Linked DNA regions of Homo sapiens: regions 1 and 2 are each linked to region 3. The links come from fine-mapping of genetic effects on gene expression. A gene starts in region 3. Each other region holds a variant in brackets. All regions are shown on one strand. Distances are from middle to middle. Region 1 overlaps LOC105374536 (a long non-coding RNA gene). Region 2 holds the start of SMIM20 (small integral membrane protein 20). Region 3 holds the start of SEL1L3 (SEL1L family member 3).

Region 1 (10,336 bases), 410 kb before region 3:
CCCATGCTGTGCTCTGGCACTGATAATAACACCTCTGCCACCCTTAGCCCTGGAATTACAGCTGCCAAAGCCCTTTACAATTTCATATCCTTCCTGTCATTTGCTGCTCTGCCAAGTAGGAAGCACATGCACTATTATCTGCCCCTTTTTAGAGTTGGAAAAACAAAGGTTCAGAGAAGGACAGTGACTTACCAAGTGCTGCACAGCTGGTCTGCCGTAGGGCTGGGGTTGAAGGCAGGTCTCCCTGGCTCCACTAGGCCACTCTCCCTGGGGCTGCCCTCGTCCTGACTCCCAGCAGCTGTTCCTCCCCAGGACAGGCTCTTTGCTCCCTCTCACCTGCATATGTCCTCTCTCTCAACCACTTTTCTCTTCCTAATTGTCACGTGGCTCCTGCCCCGAGGCCCCCTTTCCACCCTCTGACATAGTTTCCATTTCATCCACTGCGCCAGCCCTTCGGCTCCCTCCTGGCCCCAAAATGTCCGTTCTTGGGCTGTTTCCTCCTTCACAGCCTCCTCCACAGGCTGTGTTGAAGTCTCCATCCTCCCCACCTGGGGACAGAGGGGTTCTCAGGGCCACAGATGTTTTGGGAAGAGAGATGGGCACCTTCAGAAAATATATTTTAGCCTATCCTTTCTCAAACTTCTCTGTACAGAAGAGGCCCGGGAGGTATCTGTAAAAAATACCAATTTCTGGGCTCCCGCTGTTGAGTCCATTGTCCCGAGGCCCAGGAATGTGCATTTTAAACACAATTGTCTGAAGTGATTCTGATTCAGGTGATACTGCAGTTTGAATTGCTTGAGCCCAGGAGGTTGAGGCTGCAGTGAGGTGTGATTGCACCACTGCATGCCAACCGGGCACTAGAGTGAGACCCTGTTTCGGAAATAAATAAATAAATAACTCACCAAAACCTTTCAACACATACCTACTAGGATGGCTACGAAGGAAGGAAGGAAGGAAGGAAGGAAGGAAGGAAGGAAGGAAGGAAGGAAGGAAGGGAGGAAGGAAGGGAGGGAGGGAGAAAAAGAGGGGCAGAGAGAGACAAAAAAAGAAAAAGAGAGGAAGACAGAAAGGAAGAAAGAAAGAGAGGAAGAGAAGGAAAGAGAGAAATAAAGAAAAAGAGGCCAGGCTTGGTGGCTCATGCCTGTAATCCCAGCACTTTGAGAGGCTGAGATGGGAGGATTGCTTTAACTGGGGAGTTCTAGACCAGCTTTGGCAACATAGCGAGACCCCGTCTCTAAAATAAATAAATAAATAAAATGAAAGAAGGAAGGAAAAGGGAAGAGAGAGGAAAAGAAAGAAGCAAGGAAAAGAGGAAGAAAGGAAGACAGAGAAAAGGACAGAAAGAAAGAGAAAAAAGGAAGAGAAGAAAGAGAAAAAAAGAACAAAGGAAGGAAGAAAGAGAGAGAGAAAGAGAAAGAAGGGAATAAAGGAAGAAAGGAGGACAGAAGAAGAGAAAGAAAATAACAATTGTCAAGGATGTGGAGAAATAGGAACCCTTGTGCCTTGTTGGTGAAATGTAAGTTGGTGCCTCTAATGTGGAGAATAGTAATTGGTTCCTCAAAAAATTAAACATGGAACTACCATATGACCAAGGAAGTCCGTTTCTGGGTATATACCCAAAAGAATGAAAGATAGAGATATCTGTACACCATGTTCATAGCAACATTATTCACAATAACCCAAAGGTGGGAAACAACCCAAATGTCCACGACAGATCAGTGGATAAACAATATACCGTATCTACCTGCAGTGGACTATTATTCAGCTTTAGAAGGAAGGAAATTCTGAAACGTGCCACAACATGAGCGAGCCTTGAAGACATTATGCTAAGTGAAATAAGCCAGTCACAAAAGGACAAATATTATATGATCCTGCTTATGCGAGGTACTTAGAGTAGTGAAACTCACAGAGACAGAAAGTAGAATGGCTGTTGCCAGGGTCTCGGGGATGGGGTGGGATTGAGGAGTTAGTGTTTAATGGAGTTTCAGTTTTTCAAGATGAAAAGAATTCTGGAGATGGATATGGTTGCACAATTTAGTGTACTTAATGCCATTGAACTGTACACTTAAAAATGGTCATGAGGGTAAATTTTGTGTATTTTACCACAATTTCAAAAATTTTACCACAATTTCAAACCTCTCAACAATTCTATGAAGTAGGTACTATTACTATTCCCATTTAACAGATGAGGAAACTGAGGCATAAAGAGGTTAGGAGATGTCCTTAAAAATCACACAGGGCCGGGCACGGTGGCTCACACCTGTAATCCCAGCACTTTGGGAGGCCGAGGCAGGCGGATCACTTGAGGTCAGGAGTTCCAGCATGGCCAACATGGTGAAACCCCATCTCTACTAAAAATGCAAACATTAGCTGGAAGTGGTGGTGGGCGCCTGCAGTCCCAGCTACTTGGGAGGCTGAGGGAGAAGAATTGCTTGAACCTGGGAGGTGGAGGTTGCAGTGAACTGAGATCGTGCCACTGCACTCCAGCTTGGACAACAAAGCGAGACTCTGTCTCCAAAAATAAATAAATAAATAAATAAATAAATAAATAAATAAATAAATAAAAACACTGATAATAAGTGACAGAGCTGGAATGTGAATCTGGGAAGTGTGCATCCCTCAAATGTCCACACGTCCATTCCCACCTCTTCCAGGCTGCGTGCAAATGCCCACCTGTCTTCCCGCCTTTTGTCACCATCCTGCATAAAATAGCTGTCCCCTCTCCCCAAGACATTTCCTATCCCTGTTTGCCTGCTTTATTTTTTATTTATTATTATTATTGTTATTATTATTTTCTGTGACTCTAGCCAAAGATAGTTTTTATTCTTGGCACTCGACTTGTAATATACTTATTCGATTCCATTTTTATCATCTGTCCCCTAGACATAGCTTCATGATGGCAGGGATTTTGACTTTTTGTTTGCCATGATATCCGTGTGTCAGGCTTTACTAGCAGCTGCTCAGTAAATACTTGTCGAATGACTGAACCAAACATGGATTGGGTGGCTTCTATGTGCCAGACACTGGAAATGCTAATATGTAAATGAAGCCCAGTTTTTGACTCCAGGGCTCCTGGTCTGGTGGAGCGATGGAGCAGCAAGGAGCCATGTAATGATCCTGTTTCCACGGGGCACTGGGACAGTAGAAAGCACAGAGGAGGAACACCCAGCCCAGCTTTGCTGGGGCCAGGAAGGATGCCTGGAGGCGAGACAGCCCCTTGAGCTTAGTTCTCAGGAATGAGTTGGGGATGTCCAGGTGAAGAAGAGAAGGAAGGGCTTTCTAGGTAGAGGGAATAGCATATGCAAAGGCTTAGAGGTCTGAAAGGGCACTGGCCTTCAGGAGAACCCAGTCACTAAGTGCAAGGGATGCCAAAGTGTATTGAGAGGAAGCTGGAGTCTCTCTGAATCTGCTGTGATTCTGAAGGCTGCCTGATAAAAAAAAAAAAAAATTTTAAAAAAAGAGGAAACTGAGGCAGATCTTCAAGGGCCTTGTTTGCCTGCTAGAGGACCCCTGAAAGGCCTGGAGAGCTATTTCTTTCATCTCCTATGCCATCATTTCCTGTTTCCTATGTACGAAGGAGGTGCCTCAGTTTATGTGAAACCTATTTCTAGCGTGGTTGCACTCAAATTCCATCAGTGATGTTTAGAGTCATCATAAATACAAACTACCAGGAAAAGGAGGGAGACTGACAGTGATTGAATATCTCCCTTTTGGTGTCTGAAGCTTAGTTTGCATTAACAATGGAATCACTACAACCACCCTGAGCAGTGAGTAGGTGAGTGCAGTTAACATGTGCATTTTACAGGCTGGAGCACTGATGCTCAGAGGAATTACATCATTGCTCAAAATCACACAGATGGTAGAGTCAGGATTTGAACTCAATCCACCTACCCCAGAACCTGGGGGTTCTTGCAGTGAGAAGAATGGACTTCTCTATTCTTGCTTTTCCTGATTCCTCTGAGTACGCCAAGTGGCTTGGATCACTTGATTCTCCTTCCTCTGAAGAGCAGTGACAGCAGAACCTTATCTACGTGTTAGGTGTAGACAATCAGACAACTGCAGTACCAGTTCTTCTTTCCAAAGCCTCTTGGATGATTGTGAACCATGGCTAACACTCTTCTTTGCTTTTGTCAACTGGCCAGGCAGCAAAGAGGACACCTGGGCTTTGCTGATAAACTTAGGAATCTGGCACCTATCCTGCAGCCTGGAGAGAATTTATTTTCTCTTGGGGTGCTTGTGTGCTGCTTCTTTGCCAGGGCTTGGCTAGGGAAAGGCTGCATCATGCTTGTGGCACACAGAGCAAAGCTATGAGGATGTGAGTGGCCCCAGGTCTCAGTGATTTGAAATAAAGGGTGGCAGATGCAAATAAGATTTAGACACAGTGAAAATCTCCGGCTATATAAGGTGGAGACAGAGGACAGGGGTTAGGCATTTAAAACCCAGAAGTAGATGGAAAATTAATACCATCTTAATGCCTGATGGAACTATGTAAATAGTCACTCTCATTGTGTTTGCTGCTGTCAGTGCTTGGTTCTTTCTTGACATTTGTGTATTTTCTCAGATGGAAATACCTAGCCTGCTCTCCAGGAAAGAAGGCAAGGAGGTGCTCTCAGTTTCTGTGTCTGGATGAGTTATTTTTTTTCAGTAAGACTTGGTGCCCTGTGTATGTGTAGAGAGGGATGGAGAGAGGGGGATAGTTGCACATCAATGGCAGACGCAGTTTTGCCTCATCTTGGTGCTCCTGAGGAGGGAGAGATTAGAGCTTTGTGGTTTATTTGGGGGACAAGTTCTTAGTTTGAGGAAGAAAAGGGTATTAAATGACTGTCTTCGTCCATTTTATGAATACTAACAGACTAGATAATTTATAGTGAATAGAAATGTATTCGGCCCATGGTTCTGGAGGCTGGGAAGTCTGAGAGCATGGCATCGGCATCTGACAAGGGCCTTCATGCTGTGTCATCCAGTGGCAGAAGGCAGAAGGGCAAAAGGGAGTAAGAATGAGATCAAGAGAAGGCCGAGCTCACTGTTATAAAAAGTATGCTCTCCCAGTAATGAACTCGCCCTGACAATAATGGCATCAATCCATTCGTGAGGGCAGAGACCTCATGGCCTAATCACCTCTCAACATGGTTGCATTGAGATGTGACACATGAACAAGTTTCCAACACATGAACTTTGGGGGCCATATTCAAACCATAGCAATGACCCTTGATGACCCAGGACCCACCCCTTTTATAATTTTATCACTCTTCCATTCATATCATTCATTCAACAGATATATATTGGCTTTGGTTGCAAAAGTGGAAAGGAAAGCATCCTTTGTATCAATCAGAAAGGAACATGTCAATGGATTTCCCGTAACTGCTGACTTCACTCCCAACATTTCCCATGGTGGCCTCTGGAGTCTCTCCCCAGTTGTTGACCCTCCCTTCAACTCTCCACCTCCCAACCCGAAGGGAAACCAGACTCTAGCTTGAGGACCTCATTTACCCTGCAGCTCTTTTGAGAGGAGGGAGCTTCTTTCTCTGCATTCAACAACCCAGCTTAGAGCAGGTATAATCCCCATGCTCCTCATTGGGATTTTTAGTTCCACTGGGGCTCTGCCCATTTCCACAATACCCTGCCCCCTTGCACTCTTGTTGTCCTTGTCATTTGCTGACCTCCTGGTAATTCCCACATGCATCCATGGGCACCGCAGGCACCTGGCTCACTGTTTTTTTCTCCATTCTGGATGCATTACCCCCCAGGCCCTGCTCCCTCTCTTGGTTGTCACTGCTCAGGCCCTGCTCCCTTTCTTGGTATGCTCTAACATACCTTCTCCTCCTTCCTTAGACCTCCAACACCTCCTTCCTATCCTCACTCTCAGCTCATAATGTAGCCTTCTGTTTCACTGAGAAAATAGACGCCAACAGAAAAGATGCTCCTGCCAGCCTCCTGTCCACACATCTGCACTCTCTGCCTCCCCACCCATGACTTCTCTGCACTCTTTCTTTGGCCAGTCCTGCTTGCCTTCACCCTGCAGGGGCTTCCTCTTTCCTGCATCACCAGTTTCCCTCCCTCTTTTGGCTCATTCCCATCAACATACAAGTGTCCTATAAAACCCCCCACCTTTAAGATATAGAACTGCTTTTGACCCCAGCAGCCTCCAGCTGTGGCTCTATGTCTCTGCTCCTAACACAACTCCTGGAAGCAGCTGTCTCCACTTCTTGTCCTCCAATTCTCTCTTGAATGCACCCTAAGCTATCCTTTGTTCCCATACCACTACCTAGAAAT[G/A]TGTCTTGTCAAGGATCATAGTGGCTCCCTCCTCCATGGCCATATCCAGGGTCTTATCTTAGTCCTCACTGTTCCTTACTCCCTACATGCCATGAGCCACCAAATGCTGTCAATTCTGGCCCTTAAATCTCTTGCCCATCTGTCCCCCTCCTCTCTGTCAACACTGCCCCGCCCTAGTTCAGACCTTGGCCCTTTTCACCTTCCCTGTTATAATAAATGCCCTCTTTACCTGTCTCCCAGCTACAGCTTTTCCCCTCCCCAAATACTCCCTCCCTGCTTCCCTCACAGATGCCAGAATGACCCAATCACCTCCTATCCTTCAAATCCAATGTTTGGGAATTCTAAAGCTCTTCCTTATTTTTTTTGACTCCTCTACTGACTACTCATTTCCTGAAACTTTCTCCCAACTTAGATGTGTCACTTCCTCTCTCAGAATTCTTCAGTGACTCCAGCACCTACAGGACACAGTGAAATCTCTCTTCCTGGAGTACCAGATTCCTCACAATCTAGCTCCGGACCCTGCTAAGCCTCTCCTCCTTACCGCTTTTTCCCCTGAATTTCTCTCCTAGCCCCTGTGGTTCTTCTGAATTTCCATCTCTCTTTGCACACAATGCTTCCTCTGGCTTGGATGCCTTCTCCCTCCCCTGCCTCCACTTCATCTTCCAAGTCTGTTGTCTCATTTTTCTCCCACAAATGTTTATAGCATTCCTTCCTTGTGCTAGACTCTGTCACAGCCCCAGAGTCTGAAGCCTCCTGCACCTCTATTGCAATCTCTCTGCTATCTGGCCCATCTGTTTCCCAGGGATTTTCATATTGCATAATTGTTGGCTTGCATGATTTTTTTTTTAAGAGGCATGGTCTTATTCTGTTGCCCAGGCTGTGGCACGATCATAGCTCATTGAAACCTCAACCTACTGGGCTCAAGTGATCCTTTTACCTGGGCCTCCCAAAATGTTGGAATTACAGGTGCAAGCCATCCCACCTGGCCTTGCTTGTATTCTTTTTCTCTTCTCACTAACCACAGCCTCTCATGTTTTTTGTTTTTTTTTTGTCTTTTTTTTTGTTGTTGTTTGTTTGTTTTTTGTATTTTAGTAGTGATGGGGTTTCACTATGTTGGCCAGGCTGGTCTGGAACTCCTGACCTCGTGATCCGCCCACCTCGGCCTCCCAAAGTGCTGAGATTACAGGTGTGAGCCATTGCACCCTGCCAGCTTTTCATTTTTGTGCCTCCAGAGTCAAGTCTGTGTTTGGCCCATGGTAGGTAATAAGTCAACATTTGTTGAAAGGATCAACGATGAATGAGCTATGCTAGAGGCCCCCAGTAATCGGGACTCTGGTATCTGAGCCACTGCCTCCTAGTTTTCCCATATGGTACATGGCAGGAGTAATATGTTGCCTTTGGGGAGCTTCACTGAGGACTCTAATCAGGATCCCACGTATCAACAAGGATGCTCTTAGAGCATTTTGTCTTTTCTATTAGAATGCCAGTTTTCTGCTTGTATTCTATCAATCCTCACTGAGGGATAGAGCCTGGCCTCCCATGGGGTGAGGGTAGGAGGCGAGCTTGGATTTTTGGATCCATCTGATCAGTTTCCTCCACAAAGATGGGAGACAATGGAGGGGAGAACCCTTTAGGGCAGAGCCCATGCCTGGTCTTCATTTCCCAGGATCTCACTGAATTGGTGGTGCTCAGTGCAGCCTCCAAGAAAGGTTTGCTGAGTGAATGATGAAGCCCTGTTTGCCTGTCACAGGTAATTTAATAGACTGCATGAGGCATATCAAAACAACTGGGAAATAGTTCCTTCTCTCAAAGATTCTACAATCTATTTGGGAAAAAAATGTATTGATTTGAATTTTAAAACTCCATGAAGAATGTTTTCCCCAATGTTATTTATCTATTCATTTATTTTTATTTTTATAGACTTAGTGCAGTTTTGTTACATGAATATATTTCATAGAGGCAAAATCTAGGCTTTTAGTATAACCATCAGCTGAATAGTGTTCATTGTTCCCATTAGGTAATTTCTCATCCCTCACCCCCATCCCACCCTCCCACCTTTTTGAATCTCCAGCGTCTTACTATTTTTCTTTTTTGAGACAAGGTCTGACTCTGGTTATGCAGGGTGGGGTGCAGTCCCACCATCTTGGCTCACTGCAACCTCAGCCTCCTGGGCTCAGGTGATTCTCCCACTTCAGTCTTACAAGTAGCTGGGATTACAGGCTAACGCCACCATACCTGGCTATTATTTTGTATTGTTAGTAGAGATGGGGTTTCACCATATTGTACAGGCTGATGAGTCTCCGACGTCTATGATTCCACTCTCCATATCCATGTGTACTCATTATTTAGCTTACACTTACAAGTTAGAACATGTAATATTTGACTTTCTGAATTATTTTTCTTAAGATAATGCCCTCCAGTTCCACCCATGTTGCTGCAAAAGACAAGATTTTATTCTTTTTTATTCTTTCTGATATATATAGATAGACCACATTTTCTTTATCCAGTTATCTGTTGGCAGACACTTAGGTTGATTCCACATCAACCCACATCACTTTGCTATTGTGAATAGTGTTGTGATAACATATGTATGGAAGTATCTTTTTGTTATAATGATTTCTTTCCCTTTGTGTAGCTACCCAGTAGTGGGACTGCTGGATCAAATGATAGTTCTTTGAGAAATCTCTATACTCATTCCAACAGAGGTTGTACTAATTCACATTCCCACCAACAGTGTATAAGTGTTTCCTTTTCTCAGCATTCTCACCAATGTCTGTTATTTTTGACTTTTTTTTTTTTTTTTTTTTTGAGACAAAGTCTCACTCTTATCACTGGAATGCAATGGCATGGTCTCGGCTAACTGCAACCTCTACCTCCCGGGTTCAAGAGATTCTCCTACCTCAGCCTCCCAAGTAGCTAGGAGTACAGGTGCTTGCCACCATGCCTGGCTAATTTTTTTTTTTTGTATTTTTAGCAGAGATGGGGTTTCACCATGTTGGCCAGGCTGGTCTTGAACTCCTGACCTCATCCGCCCGCCTTGGCCTCCCAAAGTGAGCCACCATGCCCAGCCTATTTTTGACTTTTTAATAGTAGTCATCATGACTGGTGTAAGATGTTTCTCATTGTGGTTTTTTAATTGTCCTAATGTGATTTAGAGTCCAACCAAGAGCAAAGGTGAAATCCTCTTTAGGCGTCAGATTATGATTTCTTTCTTCACCACACAATAAAAAAGAAAGGAGAGAAAGAAACTAAAGTCATCTCCCAGACGACTCTTGGCTCTTAGCTCCTGCTGAAGTTGGAGACCCTCATGGGATATTAGATAGGATGGGAAAAAGGGAAGAGGGAAGGCGTGAAACACAGCTCCCTTTATTTTTCTTCTTATTCAAGTAGTATCTTTTTATCTTTGGAATTTGGAAAGCAGAGATGAGTGTGAAAAAAACTGCCCCAAAACTTATTCAGAGATAATCGCCTTGTATTTTAGTGTAGTTTAATCTTTGTTTCTTAAAAACAAGACAAACTATATGTTTTTTGCTTTGTGTATAGGGATTCTTGTTGTTGTAATTACAAAAGCAACACATGGTCACTGTTGAAAGGGTTGGAAACATCAATAAGAAAAAGAAATGAGAATGAAAATTGCCCTCAGGGTCACCAAATAAACACCAAACAGTGTTGACATTAAAAGGTGTATTTTGTCTTCCTTGTTACTTCCCTCCTTTTTCATTTTCTACATGACACAAAGAAACAAAACTCCACAGATTTTTTTCATATTTTGTACCAAATTAGAAAACACAAATAAATAAAGGAATACAAATGAAAAGGGGAAAAGGCTGGGCATGGTGGCTCACACCTATAATCCCAGCTACTTGGGAGGCCATGGCAGGAGAATTGCTTGAGCCCAGGAGTTTGAGACCAGCCTGGTCAACATAGCGAGACCCCCATCTCTACAAAAAAATTTTAAAATTAGCCAAGCATGGTGGTGCATGCCTGAAATTTAGCTGTAATTATTTATTTAAAAATGCCCTTTTAGCTGGGTGTGGTGGCTCACACATGCAATCCCAGCACT
Region 2 (9,286 bases), 51 kb after region 3:
TCCCTGGAGCTCTCTCTCCCTTTACACAAATACGTTCCCCCAAACTCAAACTTCCTTTGCCTTTCCCAAACATTAGCACAGTGATGAAGCCCCAAGTGCTTTCATCCATGCCATGTGTAGGAGGTAATTGTGTTAATTTCTGTATCTATTAGCACTCCTGGTGGCATGCCACTGAAACTGACTCTAACTTAAGTCCAAAGGGACTTTATTGGAAGCATATGGGGTGGCCTGCAGAATATAATGAACGCTCAAGAATCAGACTGCAAGGGGAAACAACCAGGGAAGCTCCAGGATTACAGGCAAGTGGGAGGTATACGATGATCACATCAGAACATTAGCAATGGAAGACAGCTACTCCAACAATGCTGTCCGTCTTTGCGTCACTGTCTTCATCGTCCTTATTTCTGGGAGAAAAAGAACAATTGGACCAAATGATCCAGCTGGATCATCCCCACACCCAGGCAACCAAGCTCCCTGACATCATAAAACATTGTAGATTGGTGGTTAAGAGCAGTATCTGGAACTAGCCAGGCTCGGTTTGAATCCTGGCTCCACCATTTACCAGCCATGTGATCAAGTCATTCTCAGTATGCCCCAGCTTCCCCCTCTGAACATGAGGATACCTATCCATAGGTATTGGTGAGCACAAAGTGAGCAAACCTGTGATACTGACTATAGAGGGCAAGTGTTCTACAAATCTTGATGTTAGCATTGATTAGGAATACACAAGGCCCCTGAAATTGCAGTCTATCCAAAAATGCCAAGATAAGAGGTCATTCTCCAAAAGACATCAGTTTTTATCAAGGCACAGTGGGTGGCCAAAAAACAATTACTATCCTCTACTACATCTTATCCCTCCACCAGACTGTGGACACCATGAGGACAATAGATTCTGCTGTTTTCCTCACCGCTGTGTTCACCAGCACCTGAAAAGCATCTGGCATATTGTGCCTGGCTCAATGAACCATTACTGAATTCACAAATATTGAATGATTCCTTCTGTGTTCCCAATCAACTAGTACAATGTTTTGCATGGGAGTAGGCACACAATAAGTATTTGCTGATTTAATTGATAGGTCAGAGGGAAAAGAAAAACTGGAGGAGTGTGGTTTTCTCAGAAATGGGGAAAACACGGGAATCAAAGAGATGAGCTTGCATTTGGCAGGACTCAGTGGCAAGTAAGTGATAGGTAACTGTTTTCTGGTGTGTTGATGTCAATTACCTATACAAATGATCTAGATGGCCTAATCATTTCTGCTGGTCAACTAACGCCTTTAGATCAGCATCAAGGAGACAAGAGAAACCACGAGTCACTTGGCACATCACCTTGGAGAGGGAGAGGCTCATCTGCCACAATGGACTTGTCCTTGCCTTAGAGGCACTCCCAGTACCTCATCACGATGCTCTGTTCTCCTGGCAACGCTCCTTACTGGCTTGCAGGTGCCCGTGAGCAGGGCTTGGCTGGCCATCCTGCCAAGCTTGCTCATGGAGACAGCAAGATCTCATGGAGGAGCATTTCAGATCAGACATCACAAGAGCTAAGACCTCGGCCAATGCTGTGTGACCTCAGGAGAGTTCTGGTCTCTGGCTGTCAGTGACCAGATCTATAAAATAGAGTAATCCTTGCCTTGCAGCTCAGTAATCCTTGCCTTGCAGCTCCAAGTGGAGTCACATCCTCAGAGATTTTATCTGGAACTCCTTCTGTTGTAAAAGACAGAACCCAACTCAAACTGGCTTCAGAGAAAGGGGGACTCTATTGCTCATGTTACTGAGCAGTCTAGGGGTAGAGCTCTTCTGAGATACAGCTGGCACAAATGCAACACTAGCATCTGATTTCTCCCCACCTCTCAGCCCTCCTTCTGCTGTACTGACTTCCTTTTCAGTTCCTAAATGATGGCCCCCAGTAGCTCGAGTCTCATTCGCTCAAGTTCAAATCCAACTTTCCAGTAGCTGGAATAGACTATGGTTGGCTCAGCTTGGGTCATGTGGCCAGGAGGATGCAACTACATTAGGTGTTCAGGACTGACTCCTAATCAATACTAACCTCAAGACTGAGTCCTGGGTGCCAACCAATCCCTGTGACGAGGAAGCTTGGTCAGGCCCTTATGCTTAACTTTCAGAGCTGGGAAGAAGTAGGATGAGGATGGGGAGTCCTAGGTTATCTCATGGACCAAGAGTGGGAAAAGAGTGGGTCCCAGAAAGATACTTGGGGTACTATTCACAGAAAAAAGGGAAGTGGCCACAGGGCTGATAAAACGACGATGCCCACTACACCTGGGTATTTTCTTTCTTTTTGTTTTTTGTTTCTTTTGAGACGGAGTCTCACTCTGTCACCCAGGCTGGAGTGCAGTGGAGCGATCTCAGCTCACTGCAAGCTCTGCCTCCCAGGTTCCAGCTATTCTCTTGCCTCAGCCTCCCAGGTAGCTGGGACTACAGGCGTGCACCACCACGCCCGGCTAATTTTTTTGTATTTTTAGTAGAGACGGGGTTTCACCATGCTGGCCAGTCTGGTCTCGAACTCCTGACCTCATGATCCACCCACCTCAGCCTCCCAAAGTGCTAGGATTACAGGCGTGAGCCACTGTCCACAGCCCTCACCTGGGTATTTTCTATCGTGTGATATAAAGCTGGTGTCACAGTTCCCTCTGTGCTATGAAGTCTTCTGTCCTCATCCTAACAAGCTCCTGTAAGTGCCCGAGGAGCAGCTGCCACACTGCAGTCATCTGTCTTCCTCCTCTGAATTTCTGTAGCCCGCAGGACCATAACACGTGTCGGCAGCACGCAATGTCGGTCATTAGTTATCTTTTTATGGATATGTTCTATCTCTTCATCTATGCGACAGGATCCTAGAGAGCAGGGGTCACATCTTATTCATCTTTGTGTCCCCTTAGCACTCTGCCTGGTGTTTGGGGCATGGCAGATAGTCCATGAATCTGGGGAGAGATTGAATAACTGATTTACATGCTTCTAGAGCCACAGAGGTAGACAGTAGCTTGATGCAACTACAAGATTACAAAGAAAGAGGAAACCTGTCCTCTCCAAGCTATTTTGAAACGCTTGTAGATCTGTTGTGGCCTAAATAATGCTGCTAGGGTCAAGACAGATATCCTCTTTGCTCCCCAGGCCCAGCTGCTGGCATGATTCCTATTTATAAAGGCATGGAGGCCCAAGGAATCTGTGTCTCAGCTGCCCAGTATCCCTGGGCAGGTCATAGTCAGGCACAGCCCACTTGTAAGGGCAGTGTGGTGCAGAGGGCGGAGGATGGCAACTTGAGGA[G/A]GAGGAAACAGGTATCTGTTCTCGGTGGCCCCCACCCAGACAATACGGAAGCGCCCCGTGGCCCCATGGATGGGACCGGATGCTGGCTCTCTGCCTTGGCCAAGGCATCCCAGCACAGGGAACAGGGAGAGAGGATGGGATGGAGGGAGAGAGGATGGGATGGAGAAAGAGAGTAGCTCGGATGCTGAAACAACGTTCCTCCTAGGCTAGTCTTGGTGCAGAAGCCCCGCAGCTCCGGTTTTAGAATCCCCCAGCAGGCCCTCTCGGGCCAGAGATTTGCCCCTTTGTCTCTGATACGTACAAACCTCCCTCAAGAAGGACGAGTGACTCGTCCAAAGCCGCGCAGCGGAGCCGCGGTTCCCTCTCCTGTAAACTAAGCAGACTGATAAAAGGATTAATTGCGCGAGCGACAGAGAGCATCTGGCGCACGGCGGACAGTCGCTAATTAAGAAATTAACGGGGGATGGACGAGAAAGCTGGCTGGTAAAGAAGGCGATGGTAAAGGAGGTCTGGAGGGTGCTGAGGGAGGAACCGGGCCGAAGGAAGGAAAGTAGACAGAACAGGGCCCGCGGGAATCGAGTGCAGCAAAACAGCTCCAACCTCAATCCAACGCCAGCGCCCGGCCCGCACAGCACGGAATCCCGGGGAAGGCGGAGGGCGGGGTCCGAGGCCCCGCCTGTGACCCCACCCCTTTCCTGGCCCCGCCCCCAGCCTTGAGGCCCCGCCTCTGACTCCACCCCTGTCTCTTTCTCCGCTCCGCCCCTCCTCCTCGTCCCTCCCTCAAGGCCCGGAAGCGAAAGCCTCTCCACCTCTTCCGAGCGGGGTCACGGCCCGGCCGTCGGTAACCTGGTTTCCGAGAGTGCCGGGCGGTCGGCGGGTCAGGGCAGCCCGGGGCCTGACGCCATGTCCCGGAACCTGCGCACCGCGCTCATTTTCGGCGGCTTCATCTCCCTGATCGGCGCCGCCTTCTATCCCATCTACTTCCGGCCCCTAATGAGATTGGAGGAGTACAGTGAGTGATCTCTAACCCCTTGCGGTGACCTGACTCCCCAACACACACACCTCCCCTCTGTGAGCTCCACGTGGTGCCGTGGAAAGAACTTGGCTCGAGGGTTAGGGAGAGCCGGGTTCGAATCCTGCCATGTGCAGCTTTGTGACCGTGGACAAGTTGCTCAACCTCTAGGACTCTCAGTATCCTCATCTGTGAATGTTTGTGGCTACGTCATCTATGCTAAAATGCCGAGCCTCCTGTGAGACTCAGGTGATCATGTATATGAAAGCAGTCCTCACATAAGTCGACGCTAAGTACCAGTTCATATTTACAGTTAAAATTCACTGAATGCCTATTACACGTCAGGTTAGGCATATGTTGGATCGTTTCATTTGCACAAGCTCACCTTGAAGTATATATGTAAAACATGCCCATTTTACAAATGAGGGAACTGAGAGGCTCAGAGGTTTTATAACGTTCCCAAGGTCACACAGCAAGTAAGTGACAAGGCAAATATATCCAACCCCAGGCCTCTGTCCAGAGCCTCCTCCAAGCACCCAGGCTGAGAATGGTGACTGGGGGAGCCAGATGGAACCCTGATCCTTCTGAGTGGAAAGGTGCTTTTACTGCACTTCATTTCCACTCCCCAAGATGTTTTTTGAGTGGGACTGTTTCAAACCCAAACTGTTAACCTGGGGTTTGTAGTGTTTTCTCTTCTTTTTCCTCAAATTGTTTTTCCGATTCTGCTTGTTTCCTTCGTTTTAAGCCGATTGCTCACATGGTAATGGTGAAATCCTGGGAGTAATTTTCCTTCTTAATCATTCCAGTCCTATCATTCTAAAAGCCAAACTCTTCTTCCTTGAGACCTATACCTCAGCAAGGATTAGCACTTTGATACATCTGAAACCATCTGTCAGACAGAAAATATTAGGCATTAGAGGCTCATTTTGTTCACCAGGAAACCCGAATCATCTTGAAGATGGAAGAGGGCCAACCCTGTCCCTTGGGAATATTAACGGACACTGAAAGCTTGGCGAATTGAAGGCGAAAGCTCCGTGTAAATGTTCTGCCCATTACAAATGTTGCAGCAGTCGATTTCTGGAGGCAGAGCGTTTTAAGTGCACACTCAGATTTCCTTGTAGCTTCTTTTCATTAGCCAAGACTGAAATGGCCACTGTGTTCTGCCTTCCAGCTTATCTGCATGCACCATGCGTGGGAGTAAGGTGGGCTGTGTGAAGCCCTGCGGGATCTGTTTCCACCATCCTTCTTCAGCGGACGCCTGCCCCAGCGATTATATTGAGGCCACTAGAACTTGGGACAAAGGGTCTGCTTTGCATCCCATTGGAAAAGTCAGTTCTGAAAACTAGAGCTGTGGTTCTCATCTAGGGGTGATTTTGCCCCGCAGGATATTTGGCTCAATCTGGAGACATTTTTGCTTGTCACAACTTGGGATGGGGCGGGGGGGGGGTCGAGTGTTGCTACTGGTTTCTTGTGGATAGATGCCAGGGATACTGCTAAACTTTTTGCAGTGCATACAAGACAGACCCCCATGACAAAGAATTACCCAGCTTAAAATTCGAGTGGTGCCTTGGTTGAGAAACCCTGCTTGAGATGAAATGGTCAAGATGGGGACTTGTACTGTGTATCCCAGCAACAGTCTTTTAGGGATACTCCAGAATCTGTGGTTGTCTGAATGTCTTGAGACAGACAAATCAGGTGATGTTCATCTGTGGGTGAACATTTAGTGAATGTAACTATAATATCTGCATTTTTAACTAGAAGGCAGGCAGTCTGTGCCTTCCCACTTTTCTGGTTCCTTTTTGTTTTTTTTTCTTTTTTTCCGCTGTCACCCAGGCTGGAGTGCAGTGGCCTGATCTCGGCGCACTGCAGTCTCCATCTCCCAGGTTCAAGCAATTCTCCTGCTTCAGCCTCCTGAGTAGCTGGAATTACAGGTACCTGCCACCATGCCCAGCTAATTTTTGTATATTTTAGTAGAGACAGGGTTTCACCATGTTGGCCAGGCTGGTCTCGAACTCCTGACCTTAGGTGATCCACCCGCCTTGGCCTCCCAAAGTGCTGGGATTATAGGTGTGAGCCACCACGCCTGGCCTCTGGTTCCATTTTGATTAATTTGGCCAACTCTTTTCTGGGGATCGTAACTGATTCTTTTTTCTGAGACAGTCTCCCTCTGTCGCCCAGGCTGGAGTGCAGTGGCATGATCTCGGCTCACCGCAACCTCTGCCTCCCAGGTTCAAGTGATTCTTGTGCCTCAGCCTCCCAAGTAGCTGGGAATCCAGGCATGCACCACCAGTCCTGGCTAATTTTTGTATTTTTAGTAGAGACAGCATTCTGCCATGTTGGCCAGGCTGGTCTTAAACACCTCACCTCAAGCGATCCTCCTGCCTCAGCCTCCCAAAGTGCTAGTGTTACAAACTGACTGCTGTAACATTTGTAATGGGCAGAGCGTTTACACAGCTTTCGCCTTCAGTGCCAGCAACTGATTCTTTTAAACAGGTAAATATTGCTGAACAGGTAATATTTGTGGGAAGTTTACTATATGTTTGGCACTCTTCTAAGCACTTCCTATATATTAACCCATTTAGTGTTGATAACAGCCCTTTGTGGCAGCTGCTATATGATCATCATCCCCATTTTATATGTGGACAAACTGAGGTGTGAAACAGTTAAATTACTTACACAAGGACCTACAGCTGATGAGTCACAGATCTGGGACTTGAATTAATATCCTTAATCCCTAAACCAAGACAGCATACTGCTTGTCTAAGGGGGCAAGAAAAGGCAATGGGGGAGATGAGTGTCTGCATAGCCTACTAGATGAATGACCCTCATCTAAGTTACTTCACTTCTCTGAGCCCTGCCTGTTTCCTCATCTGTAGCAGTGTAGTTCACTGGATTGAATTTACAGGGTTTGGGGTGAATTAAATGGGGTAACAGGTGTGGAAACACCTACTATAGTCTTATATTAGATATTTTATTAAAATGTTTACAAAATAATGAGCCACAAGGGCAGGAATGTGAGACATGGAGATTTTAGCAGGTGGATAGGCCTGGAGCTGGCTGACCTAGCAGTAAACTGGGATGAGGTGTTCATGATCAGGTCATGGAAACCCACTGTGTGGTCGGATCTTCAGCTCATTCCAACACATTCAACTAGCATTTATTTAGCACTCTCTTTTTTAGAAGAAACCTGGATTCTAGCAATCGCTGGGTGCCTGGCACTGTGCTGGGTGTGGACTGCACCTAACCAAACAGCATGGTCAGTCACTTCCTTCCATCATGCTCTTCCTACCCTTGTCCTGTCCACCTCGCTCCACCCATTCCTGGGACTGAGCTGCTTCCATTGTGTCCCACCTACTACCCATTCTCTACCTAGCAGCCACAGTGGTCTTTTCTGGTGACTTTTGGTTGCTGGTTTCTATCTTATTTGCATTTATGGTCAGAGAATGTGGACTATATGATTTTGATTCTCTGACACTGGTCAAGACTTGCTTTGGGGCCTGGTACAGGTCAGTTTTTTTTTTTTGTTTTTTTTTTTTTTGAGACAGAGTCTCGCTCTTTCGCCCAGGCTGGAGTGCAGTGGCGTGATCTCTGCTCACTGCAAGCTCCGCCTCCCGGGTTCACGCCATTCTCCTGCCTCAGCCTCCCAAGTAGCTGGGATTACAGGTGCCCGCCACCACGCCCGGCTAATTTTTTGTATTATCAGTAGAGACGGGGTTTCACCGTGTTAGCCAGGATGGTCTCGACCTCCTGACCTCGTGATCCGCCTGCCTCGGCCTCCCAAAGTGCTGGGATTACAGGCGTGAGCCACCGCGCCTGGCCCAGGTCAGTTTTTGTAAATATTCCCTGTGTGCTTGGAATGGTGGCTGTTCTCTTGTTGGGTACAGAGTTCTGTATCTGTGTATGTTAATTACAGATCAAGCTTCTTAATTCTGTTTGTATTTGGATGTCCTGTGGCCATGTTATTAGGTGCATACAATCTAGAAAATTCTGGATAATTTTTTCTAATTATCATTATATAAGAATTATCTTTATCTCCACTGTTCTTCCCCATCTCTATTTTATCTGATTTTATTGTGCTACCAGATTCCTTTTTTTTTTGAGATGGAGTTTCGCTGTTGATGCCTAGGCTGGAGGCTGGAGTGCAATGGTGTGATCTTAGCTCACTGCAACCTCCGCTTCCCAGGTTCTAGTAATTCTCCTGCCTCAGCCTCCCAAGTAGCTGGGATTACAGGTGCCCACCACCACGCCTGGCTATTTTTTTGTATTTTTTACTAGAGACGGGGTTTCACCATGTTGGCCAGGCTGGTCTCGAACTCTTTGACCTCAGGTGATCTACCTGCCTCAGCCTCCCAAAGTGCTGGGATTACAGGCATGAGCCACTGCTCCCAGCCCAGATTTCTTTTAATATTTTCCTAGCTTATCTGTTTCTCTCCTTATACACGCAGACTTTGTCCTTATGTGAATATCTTTTTTTTTTTTTTTTTTTTTTTTTTGAGACGGAGTCTCGCTCTGTCGCCCAGGCCGGACTGCGGACTGCAGTGGCGCAATCTCGGCTCACTGCAAGCTCCGCTTCCCGGGTTCACGCCATTCTCCTGCCTCAGCCTCCCGAGTAGCTGGGACTACAGGCGCCCGCCACCGCGCCCGGCTAATTTTTTGTATTTTTAGTAGAGACGGGGTTTCACCTTGTTAGCCAGGATGGTCTCGATCTCCTGACCTCATGATCCACCCGCCTCGGCCTCCCAAAGTGCTGGGATTACAGGCGTGAGCCACCGCGCCTGGCCTGTGAATATCTTAAAACCAACATAAACTAGATATTTTAATCCAACCTGATAAGCTCTTTTAACTATTGGATTGGATTAATTTTCATTTATTCTATTTACTGATATATTTGCATTTATTTTTCTCACCTCATTTTGTGTCTTCTTTTTTTTTTCTTGAGACAGTCTTGCTCTGTCACCAGATTGTTAGTGCAGTGGCAAGATCTCGGCTCACTGCAAC
Region 3 (10,336 bases):
CCCAGCTAATTTTTGTATTATTAGTAGAGATGGGGTTTCACCATGTTGGCCAGGATGGTCTCGATCTCCTGACCTCGTGATCCGCCTGCTTCGGCCTCCCAAAGTGCTGTGATTACAGGCGTAAGACACCGCGCCCAGCCTCTGTGCTGTTAATGTCCTCTTACTTCTTTGTCCTCAGTCTGATTGTCTAACAAGTGCAGCTATCCACTCCGAACATTTCAACTGACAGCTGACATCAATACTGGCCATCCTGAGATTTATCTTTTCATATAAGAAAATATTATACTTTGGAGACCAGAGCTTAGAACGAACAAAATTGTTTTCTGGAAGTGCCATTATCACAGATAGAGAGCTGGGGCAGCCTCAGGCTGGTTCTAGCCAAGTTGGAAGAAGGTAAGAGTTAATGGTGTAAGAAAATAGCAAGAAGGCCCGTTGGGCAGGGAAAGTTCTGCGTGGGGCACAGTACTCAGCACCCGCGACCTCAGTGGAAGCAATTTCATTATCTTTTGCTTTCGAGGCCCTCTCCCTCTCTGAGGAGGCTCTCTGCATCTTGGCCTTTGGTGACCTCAGAATTTTCTGGCAGCCACTGGAACCAGGGATCATCTTTTCAGAAATCTGTTTGGCATCGTTCCGTGACTTATCTTTCAGCCCTCATCACAATTATTCATGCTTTGGCAGTATCCTAGCTACAGACACAGTACTCTTTTTGAGCTGATACTGAAGGTTACTCCGTCCCAGCCTATGGAGACGGAAGGCACCCACTCCTCAGGACCCTGACTCCAGGAAGCATGCTCCCTGTGAGGGCAGGTGCTTAAAGGCATCTATTCAGAAGCTGCTCTCAACCTCCAGCCCTTGTGAACAGGCAAATAGGTGAAGATAACACAAAACAGGAACTGGTCCCCAAATCATAGGCAATTTGGCTTTGGAATGCATTCCAAGGCACATTTGCTGTACACTTGTATGCACATTCATCCAAACTCAAATGCTAAACTCTACCAGCTGCCTCTGGACTACATAAAAACCCCAAACCTTTATCTCTTCATTAACGATGGCAAATATTTTCTGGCTTTACCTTTCTTCCCCACTTTAACATCCTGCTTCTATTCTGTGGCCTGCGCTTCCTGCTTTGTATATTTTAGATTACTTTAGACATGACCTCACATCCTGGCCAATTGCACAGTAGCTGCTAATTGCTAGAGCTCTGCTAATGGCCCGTACATCGATGAAGAATGAGTTACAAGCAGCAAAATCCAGAAGACAATAAGCTAGTGTGGTTTAGAGCTGGGGCTCTGGAGGGAGACAGATTTGGGTTTCAATCTCAGACTGTATGGCCTGGGGCAACTAACTTAACCTCTCTGAGTCTCTGTTATCTCATCTAAATGGAGATTATAGTAGCTCCTACCTCAGAGGGCTGTTGCTAAGATAAATACTGGATAATGCCTATAAACGATTTAGCACAATGTATAGCACAATGTAAGCTATCGTTATTACCATGTAGGCTTTCAAATTATGAAAGACCTTTCCTCCTCTAGAGTCTACATATTCCTGGGATCCTGCCCAGCTATTCTGCTCCATCTCTACCCTGCACCTGCCCAGCCCCATCCCCCTGACCAACCACTTCCTCCAGGTAGCATTCCTTGATTGAGCAAAATGCACACAATTATACATTTGCGTTTTCTCTCTATTGTTTTATGTTTTTCAAGTGTTTCATATGGATATTTACATTTTCCCCAATTCTCACACCAAGCTTCTCCAAGATCAAGAAGCCTTGCCTTCAGTAGTATCTTGGGTAGTGTAGACCCAAGAGCAACATCCCTAGTAAACGGCTAGATCTTCAGAACAAAATGTGGAGACTACCTTTTAAGTCGGCCTTTTGTGTCCTTTGCAAAATGGCTCTCTTGTTTATCAAAGTCTGTCTTGTACAGTAAGCGTATCAGAAGTCCATCTGAAGGAAGCATACAAAGGCAGGAAGCACTGACATTTCCCCCCACCATGAGGTCCCCAAATCCATTCCTTCCCCATCTGCCAAGACATTCATCCATGCTCTAGTTATTTTCCACATCACAGTATTTTCTAAAATTACTCTTTCCGGAGCCCTTCCTCACTCCTTCACTATCTCACTTGAGTCTATCCATGGCATCATTTTTCCCTCTGTTCTCTTAATCCCCCTTGGTGTACACAGAACTTTCACAGGAATACTTGCTCCATCATTATCTGTCTCTGTTTCCAGAGTCCACTTAGGCCCTTAGGCTTTGCTCTCCTGACTCTGACTTCCTGAACTGTCCAGAAGTAGTCCCCCTCCTTGCCAGGTCTTGAGATGTCCACGTGGAACTTTTCGGCCCGGCCCATTTGTATATGAATGTTTCACGCAACACTCTACTACATCACTTCTGCTTCTGTGGGTAGCCAGCAGGGCCCTGTGTACAGGGATCATCTGTTTAAACTGAAATCTTGTCATTTGTTATGGCAGTTTTATTTATGAGCCTGTGTGTTGTAACCTTGTGGCATAAATATTAAATAATAATATCTCTTGGGCAAAAAAATATCATTCATGTTAACTGACAACTTCTTATGAAAATATGAAGTAAGCCCAACCACACAATTTGATATTGGCTAATTCTGAAATATGAGTAAAAGCACGGATTGCTCAACAGGTAGATGCACAGGCAGAATTATAATTTGCATTTTTACACCTTCTTGCTTCAAGAAATGAAACATTCAAGAAGTAAAAAACGTTAAAAGAAACGGGCTGAGTGGCAAATTTCTTCAGAATCAAATTCTAATTTCTGCCAGTATCTCCTAAGCAGTTTTTAGCTTCCAAAAAGAAAGACTCCAAATAATGACAATGCCACATAAGTGAAATGAATTCTGGACAATGACACTGCTCTTTTTTTTTTTTTTTTTGGCATTCTGTGAATTTCCTATTACATCAGTTTCATGATTCAGCATTTTCCATTTCATTTATTTACAGTAATATATGGCGAGATAACCCAAGGTTTCTGCAGGATTGTGGAACATAAGTTACTCTGGGCAGGAAGGGTGTCGCCTTCTGTAAATTTACTATTGTTTAGGAGAACTCAAAACAGAAGCAAGCAAGCCCTCAAAGGAACTGAGAAAATTTCTCCCCACTTTGTTCTGAGGGGTCTCAGCTACTCTGGTATTTAAAATAAATGGGTTTTGAAAAATAGGTTACTGCCCTTTAGTTGATGACTAAAACAGAAGCCAAGAAGTGTGCAAATTGCAAACTGACATGCATGAGCCAAACATATTCTCTGAAATGACAATGTTCAAGACGCAGCTAAAGTCACCACTCTGGCGGTAAGCGTGTTACAGAGAACTAGATTTCTTTCCGGCATCCGCAACTTGGCTGGAGTGACCAAGGAGGAGTTGAAGAGCGCTGGAGATGCGAGGTGCGTTGGCAGAAAACTGTCCGGGCCGGGAGGACCCGGTGGAAACTAAAAGGAGGGTCGACGCGGGTGGCGGGCGCCGAGAGTAAGAGGCGAAGTTGGGCACGGGAAGGAAAGGAGCTGCGAGAAGATTGAGAGGGAAGCCCAGGAGGGGTGGGGGGTTGGGGGGTGCTGGAGACTGCGCGCGGCGGGGCGGGGAGCGAACTCCGGGCGGCGAGGCTCCCGGGTGGAGTCGAGGACAAGAAGGGGTCTCGAGGGTAACCCGACCCGGGTCTAGAGAGAGTCCAGGAGGGAAAGGAATGAGCACGAGCGAGAGAGCAGCTTGGCAAGTCCGGTCCAAGCGCCCCTCTCCACGCCCGGGGTACCTATCCCAGGTGCCGGGAACGCCCGGGGCGCAGCGACGAGGAAGAGAGAAAACTAGCAGCGGCGTCCCCGCCCCGCGTGGCGGGTGTCCCCGGCCGCCCCCACCCGCGTCCCCGGGGCCCCGCGCGGAGGGGAAGACCCGGGCAGGGTCCGGCGCTCACCAGGTAGCAGAGCAGGAGCAGCGCGCAGGCAGAGCGGCCGCCGAGGCCCTGGGGGACGCCGCCACTCGGGACCATGGCTGCGGCCCGGGGGCCGACCGCGAGCGGCGGGGGTTGCTGCTGCTGCTGCCGCGGCCACCCGAGCCCCGCGCCGCGCCGCTGCATGGCGAGGCCGCCCGGATCCGGGCCGGAACAGGTCACCTGGTGCAGGGACCGGCCCCCGCCCGAGGCGCCACCTTCCCGCCCGCCCCCGGCCGGGCCGGCCGCCGCGCGCGGGGCCACCTGCCGCCACCTCCGGACCCGCCGCCGCCGCCACTGCCGCTCCCGCCGTCGCCGCCCCCGCAGCCCCAGCCGAGCGCCGGCTCCTCCCCGCCTCCCCGTCCCCGTCCCCTCCCTCCCCTCTGCCTCCCTGCCCAGCCCTCCTCCCGGCCGCTCCCTCTGGCCCCCGGGCTTCCACCCCTCGGAGCAGCGGGCGCCCACGCAGGTGGGCACCGACCCGGGTCCCGCCCCTTGGCCGCCGCCACCCCCCGCCCGGGTCGCTGGGCCCCGGCGCACCCCCCTTTCCCTTTCTCTCTGCTCCTCCCCCGCCCCCCTTCCGCGCTCCTGCTCTCTGCGATCCCCCTCCTCTCCCTCCGGCTCCCTCTTCCTTCTCCCCTCGCGCTCCCAAACCCCCTCTCTTTTTCACTTTCTCCTTTTCCTCCCTTTCCTCTTTCTCCCTTCCCATCCTCTTCCTCGCTTCCGCATTCTTCCTCTCCCACCCACCCCTTTTGCGGGTCGCACAGACCAGTTCCCGCCCGTGCAATGGGTTTTTGTCTGGTTGCTTTTTTGGCCGGGGCGCCATTCCCGCAGGGCGCAGGGCGAGTGTGCCCCCTGGAGTTGTGCCGCGCAGCTGCCCGGCTCCCAGGCCTTCAGGATGGATTTTGACCCCTGCCAACCTCCACCTGTCCACCTGCGGGGTTGGGACTGCCTCCTTGCTGGCATGTTTGCAGCCGGGCTGCGCCCCACCCTGCCGGCTGGTTCGCGGCACGTTCTGGATGTTTCCCGAGGGTTTTGTGTGGTGCCGCCGCCACCGCCACCACTGCGCTCTTTGTTTTAATTGTCCAGAGTATTGGCACCCAGGACGGGTTTGTATTTGATTTGCATCCCTGTGCTCCGGCTTCCACTTTGGACTGAGAAAAAAATGAATTAATTAGGTCAATACAGTAATACTGGAGCCCCAAATGAAAGGGGTGAGGCCCTGGAAGTGCGCAAACAGCTTTTTAAAAAACCAGGACACATCCTCGGCCTTGGGGACGCAGGTTGAGACTGGCTGCTCTCCGACCCGGGTTCTGCGGCCTGGCGGGGAGGGGCCTCCGGCCGGCGGGACCACCAGCTCGCCGCCGGCCTTGGCTTTCAGGGAAGCGCTTGGCTGTGTCTAGCGGCTCCGACAACTATCTGGGCCCGCAGCTGCTGCTCTGAAACAGTTAATCCACCTTCCAAAGTTCGCAGAAGCTTCCCTTTAGCACTGGTAGATTTGTGCGGATTGGAACTAATAATAGCCTGGGAGCCTGAGAGGCCACAGCCCTTTCCCTGTGCCACGAGCATAGGTCAAGTCACAACAGACGTCGGGGAGAGGCTGGTGGTGAGACGGGGTGCCCGGGATGGTTTGACGGGCGTGGACGCGCCCTCAGCTGCTTCAGTACAGGCCTGGCCACACCAGGCATGGTGGCTCCTCAGCTGTCGTCCACTTTTTTTTAGGTCACCTAAGAGCTGTGGCCTTGTGTGAGTTCCCTGGCCTTATTCCACCGGTTCTCAAACTTCAGAATTACCTGGAGGGATTGTTAAAACACAGATTCCTGGACTTCAGCCCTAGAATTTCTGACTCAGTTGGTCCTGGGAGGGACTTGAGAATGTACCTTTCTAACAAGCTCCTGGGTGATGTTAACGCGCTGGTTCAAACAGCCCTCCTCCATTTCCAGAACTATTGGCTTTTAGGGAACTGGGCTCCTGCTCCTCCCAGCCAGCTGCCACCACATTAAAGCATTTTGGGGGTTTTGACAGATGCTCCCACTATCTCTGTTCCACTTCTGCAGAAACAAAGCACTTAACATTCTTCTGTGTGACGTGGAAAACATTTATTCTATCGAGTGTCCAAGGGAACAAAAGATTTGGTGGCTTTGTCCCAGATCCTGTCTATATCTTTTCCATCAGGTCAAAATACAGACTATGCTTTTAATGTATATGGAAGGAAAATTGTCGGCCAGTTCAGGGGGAAGGGGCTTCAACAGGCATTGCAGCATTTCTAGGGTTGCCACCTGTCTTCCTGGGCCACGCTCCGGAGTTTCTCTCCTCCCACATTGTACACAGATTCTGTTGGTCTTCGGGGAGCTAAATGGTTCCTCGGGGTTGTTTGTAATCAGGATTCATGGAATTGGGAGTTTTCAAGGCCTTGTGAGCTTTGAGGATTTGGGTTTACCTAAGTGTAGGTAAGCAGAGTGCCCCACTGGAGGCTGGACTGTTTCTAACTTGCCATATCCAACTGCTCACTTCTCCCCTACTCACTCATCTCCTATTGTGTTCCTACTGTGGACTGGGCACCACCTGAGGCCCCAGGATTCCAGAGGTAGGCAGGAAGGCTCTGTTTCTGCAAGGAGCACCAGGCATGCAGAAAACCGGCCAGAGTTTGGTCTTCTAAGAGGGATGTGTGAGTTGCTCTCTCATCCTGAGCTAGAGGTGGTGGGATTAACTGCTTCATCCTGTGTTGGAGAGGGGGAGAGAAAAAGTCAAGATTTCTTTTCACGGGGGAGTGGGACGTTTTGATCCAGAAGACAGAATCAGCTCTTACTTTTGCGTCTCTCCAGCAGTTTGTGTCAGTCATTGAAAGGGCGTGGTCTGATTTCAGAAGAAAGCCCTTTATTTAAAAAGAAATATATCTTCCCATTGTCCCATGGAAGGGCTTGAAATCTCACCATTACAATTCATCAGTTTAAATTAAGTTTTAATACTCCACTAAAAGTCGAAGGCCCCAGGGGGAGATTGGCCTCCCTTATTACTGCCTTGGTGTGAGTCAGTTTATCACATGCCCTTGGAAAGGGACCAATTCCACACCTCAACACGGGAAAGGACAAAGGCACAGAGTCCTGAGCTCATCATGGCCCGCCCCTAGGAGGAGACTTCAGAGGCCTGGAGGGAGGGGCTGGAGAAAGGACTGCATCTGCATGCCTAGGTGGCACATCATAGCATTCCAGGTGAGATGTTCTGAGACTCTGAAATTTTTTTTCTTTTTTTTTTCTTTTTGAGACGGAGTCTCACTGTGTTGCCCAGGCTGGAGTGCAGTGGCGTGATCTCAGCTTACTGCAACCTCCACCCCCTGGGTTTAAGCTATTCTCCTGCCTCAAGCCTCTAGAGTAGCTGGGATTACAGGCACCTGCCACCATGCCCAGCTAATTTTTGTATTTTTAGTAGAGATGGGGGTTTCACCATGTTGGCCAGGTTGGTCTTGAACTCCTGACCTCGTGATCCACCCACCTAGGCGTCCCAAAGTGCTGGGATTACAGGCGTGAGCCACCATGCCTGGCCCAAAATGGTTTAAGATCAGTCACGTCTCGGGGACCAATGCACTTGGTCAACTATTACTTTACCAAGCAAAAATAGTTTTTATAAACCAACTGCATATACTATCTTCTGTCAGTATCATTTCATTAAAAAGACAAGGCCTTTTGCCATCAAAAAATTAGGAAGGGCCTAACATCCTAAGAAAAGACTGGTTTGGGTGCCATGGCTCATACTTGTAATCTCAGCACTTTGGGAGGCCAACACGGGTGGATCACTTGAGCCCAGAAGTTTGTGACCAGCTGGGCAACATGGTGAAACCCTGTCTCTACTAAAAATACAAAAATTAGTCAGGTGTGGTGGTGTGTGCCTGCAGTCCCAGCTACTCAGGAAGCTGAGATGGGAGGATCGCTTGAGCTCAGGAGGTCAAGGCTGTACTGAGGTCTAATCACACCACTGCACTCCAGCCTGGGCGACAGAGTGAGACCTTGTCTTAAAAAAAAAAAAAACAAAAAACAAGCTGTTCTTTAATCTGAATATTTTATTTCCGTCTTGTCTTTATATGTTGCATTTTGCTGTGGATCAGTAAAAACTTACCTTTGGAGTGGCCCTGTCCATGTCGGCAGTTGGTAACCACATTTCTATATACTAAGGATGTCTGGGGCAAAGAGATCTGCCCCTGCGGAGACAAATGACCTCCAGATTACAGGAGGTGGGTAGGAAGGCATTCTGCAGGAGTAGAGAGTGTTCCTTCCATCCACTTACCCTCCCACATAAATCTTTGAGGCCGAGGCAAATGCTGCCAGTTTTAGGGAATCTTCCCTCATGGCCTCAGGTCGAAACGCAATGGGTCGGTTCTCTGTGCCCCCAGCAGGCATTGCCTGTAATCCTAAGTGGCCACTGGCTAACTCTGCCTTATATTGGGTATGTTAGTTGGCCTGTTCTCCTCCAGTAGACTATATGCCCCCCGAAAGCAGGGGTTATTTCTTAACCGTTTCTCTGTACCCCCATGCCTTGTACATAGAACATTTCTGACATATTCACTGAATAAAGTTGAATCCAACATCTTCCTTTTTCATTTTTTCCTCTCCATCTTTCTTCCTCCCTCCCTTCCTTCTTTTCTTTTTTTATTCATTGTTGTCTCCCCAGTCTCTTCCTGTTAGAACATGGTTATTTCCACACTCAGGTTTCTCTGTAATTCTGCAGTCTTCTCCTTTCTTCCCCCTCCCTCTTTCCTGTAATTTCAGTTATTCAGAATGAAGATGAATGAACCGTGACATTTGCCTTTTATATCAAAATAAAAGAGAAGAAAGCAGAAATAGAAGAGAGGAAAGCAAAAATAGAAGATTGCTGTCAGGCAACACACTCCCCATCCCAATAGGAAAACCATGGTCTTTCTTTCTGCCAAAGGTGACCTCTGGGATCTAGACAAATCCTGCATGCCATTGTTTTATGGGCAGTATTTCCATTTTTCTTGTGGCCCCCTAGCCATTACATTCCCTAAATCTATTTCCTGTCTCTGTTTCTCCTTGTTTCAAATCCTCCATGTTTAACAGTTACTTCTTGCTTCTTCCTTCCATAGAACATCCCATCAGATACCAGCCTCATCTCCTCATCCTCAGACCCCATCCTTTGAGCCTCAAATCCCTGACTCTGCAGACTCTTTCCCTATGGGCCACAGAGCCCTTGCCTTGGGAAGTTGTGGTAAAGGAGGAAAAGGAAGCATCTGTGTAAACTGAAAGCTTTTCCGTGTATTTTTATGGGATGCTGAAGGTCTTGGAATCACTCGGTTTGTAGCCCAGGCATGCTCCAAAATGAGCTCTATTTCTGGGCCTGTCAGATGAAATGCTGTTGCTCCTGGTTATTTTTGGCTCTTTGCCCTTCTGAATAGGTGCATATTCAGCTCAATTCTTTCCCCCACCCTGAGCTGGGGGAAAAAGCGGGCAGCTTCCCTTAGCCAAGCCCTCCCCTGTGTCAGGAGCGCTTTCCCCCTTAAGCAGCAGCTACTGACATAAGCTCTCTGGACAGCGCACGACTTATTTGTGCAGTGTCCAGGTGGGCAGCAGGGAAATCCATTCTCTGGCTCTCTTGGGCCATTGAGGGAAAGCTTTGTGAGCTGAACATTTCCAGGCAGGTGCAACCAGATGTCCAGGGCCTCCTTATTCATACCCAGGTCTGCATCCTGCCCCACCGCCATAGTTGCAGAAACTTCTGCCATCCTTGGGGGGTATCAGGATAAGAAGCAGGGATTTCAGGCTCAGCGACCACAGAAGTCCCTGTATACTGGGTGTTTGGGGAAGGAAAGTACACAGGATGCAGAAGATCAAGGGCATGTGTCCATAGATGTAAGGACATCTTGGGGTCCAGGTGCCGTGGCTCACGCCTGTAATCCCTGCATTTTGGGAGGCCGAGGCAGGTTGATCATGAGGTCAGGAGTTTGAGACCAGCCTGGCCAGCATGGTGAAACCCCGTATCTACTAAAAATACAAAAAAATTAGCTGGGAATGGTGGTGTGCACCTGTAGTCCCAGCCACTCCGGAGGCTGAGGCAGGAGCATTGCTTGAACCCGGCAGGCGGAGGTTGCAGTGAGCCGAGATCGTGCCACTGCACTCCAGCCTGGGTGACAGAGCGAGACTCCTGGAAAAAAAGAAAAAGAAAAAGAAGAAAAGATGTAAGCACATCTTCAATCTTTGATCTTTGAGTGAGGGTGTTGAGAAGAACATGTGTTTGAAAAATGAATAAAGCAGAGAGAAGTTAGGGGTGAATGTGCATATCCAGTTGGGACAATGAGTAAGAGAAGAGTGAATGGGCACCGAGGGAGAGAATGTCACTATAAATAATTGAAAAGAGAGTGAGTGCACATGAGAGCTTGGGGAA

Evidence for each region.
Region 1: its variant is fine-mapped to the expression of SEL1L3 in putamen (GTEx, PIP 0.95).
Region 2: its variant is fine-mapped to the expression of SEL1L3 in whole blood (TOPMed, PIP above 0.99).

What each region holds. Positions count from the first base shown.
Region 1 is chr4:25,450,500-25,460,835 of GRCh38, forward strand. All of the region lies in intron 3 of LOC105374536 (a long non-coding RNA gene), which reads left to right. Among named protein-coding and RNA genes, the nearest start is that of ANAPC4, 78 kb to the left of the region's middle. RefSeq lists enhancers at 1-637, 6,072-6,571. The variant G/A (reference allele first, on the strand shown) is at 6,274.
Region 2 is chr4:25,910,135-25,919,420 of GRCh38, forward strand. It overlaps SMIM20 (small integral membrane protein 20), which reads left to right and starts at 4,086. Exons shown (of 3, transcript NM_001145432.3): 1 at 4,086-4,288. The coding sequence starts at 4,180. It overlaps LOC105374538 (a long non-coding RNA gene), which reads right to left and starts at 3,952. Exons shown (of 3, transcript XR_925502.3): 1 at 3,877-3,952. RefSeq lists enhancers at 3,373-3,922, 4,032-4,131, 4,202-4,331 and a silencer at 3,812-3,991. The variant G/A (reference allele first, on the strand shown) is at 3,277.
Region 3 is chr4:25,858,744-25,869,079 of GRCh38, forward strand. It overlaps SEL1L3 (SEL1L family member 3), which reads right to left and starts at 4,245. Exons shown (of 24, transcript NM_015187.5): 1 at 3,932-4,245. The coding sequence starts at 4,093. LOC102723733 (a long non-coding RNA gene) reads left to right here and starts at 2,384. Exons shown (of 2, transcript XR_427503.5): 1 at 2,384-3,410. It overlaps LOC124900688 (a long non-coding RNA gene), which reads right to left. Exons shown (of 3, transcript XR_007058092.1): 3 at 6,465-6,663. RefSeq lists silencers at 3,244-3,538, 3,809-4,268, 4,319-4,478.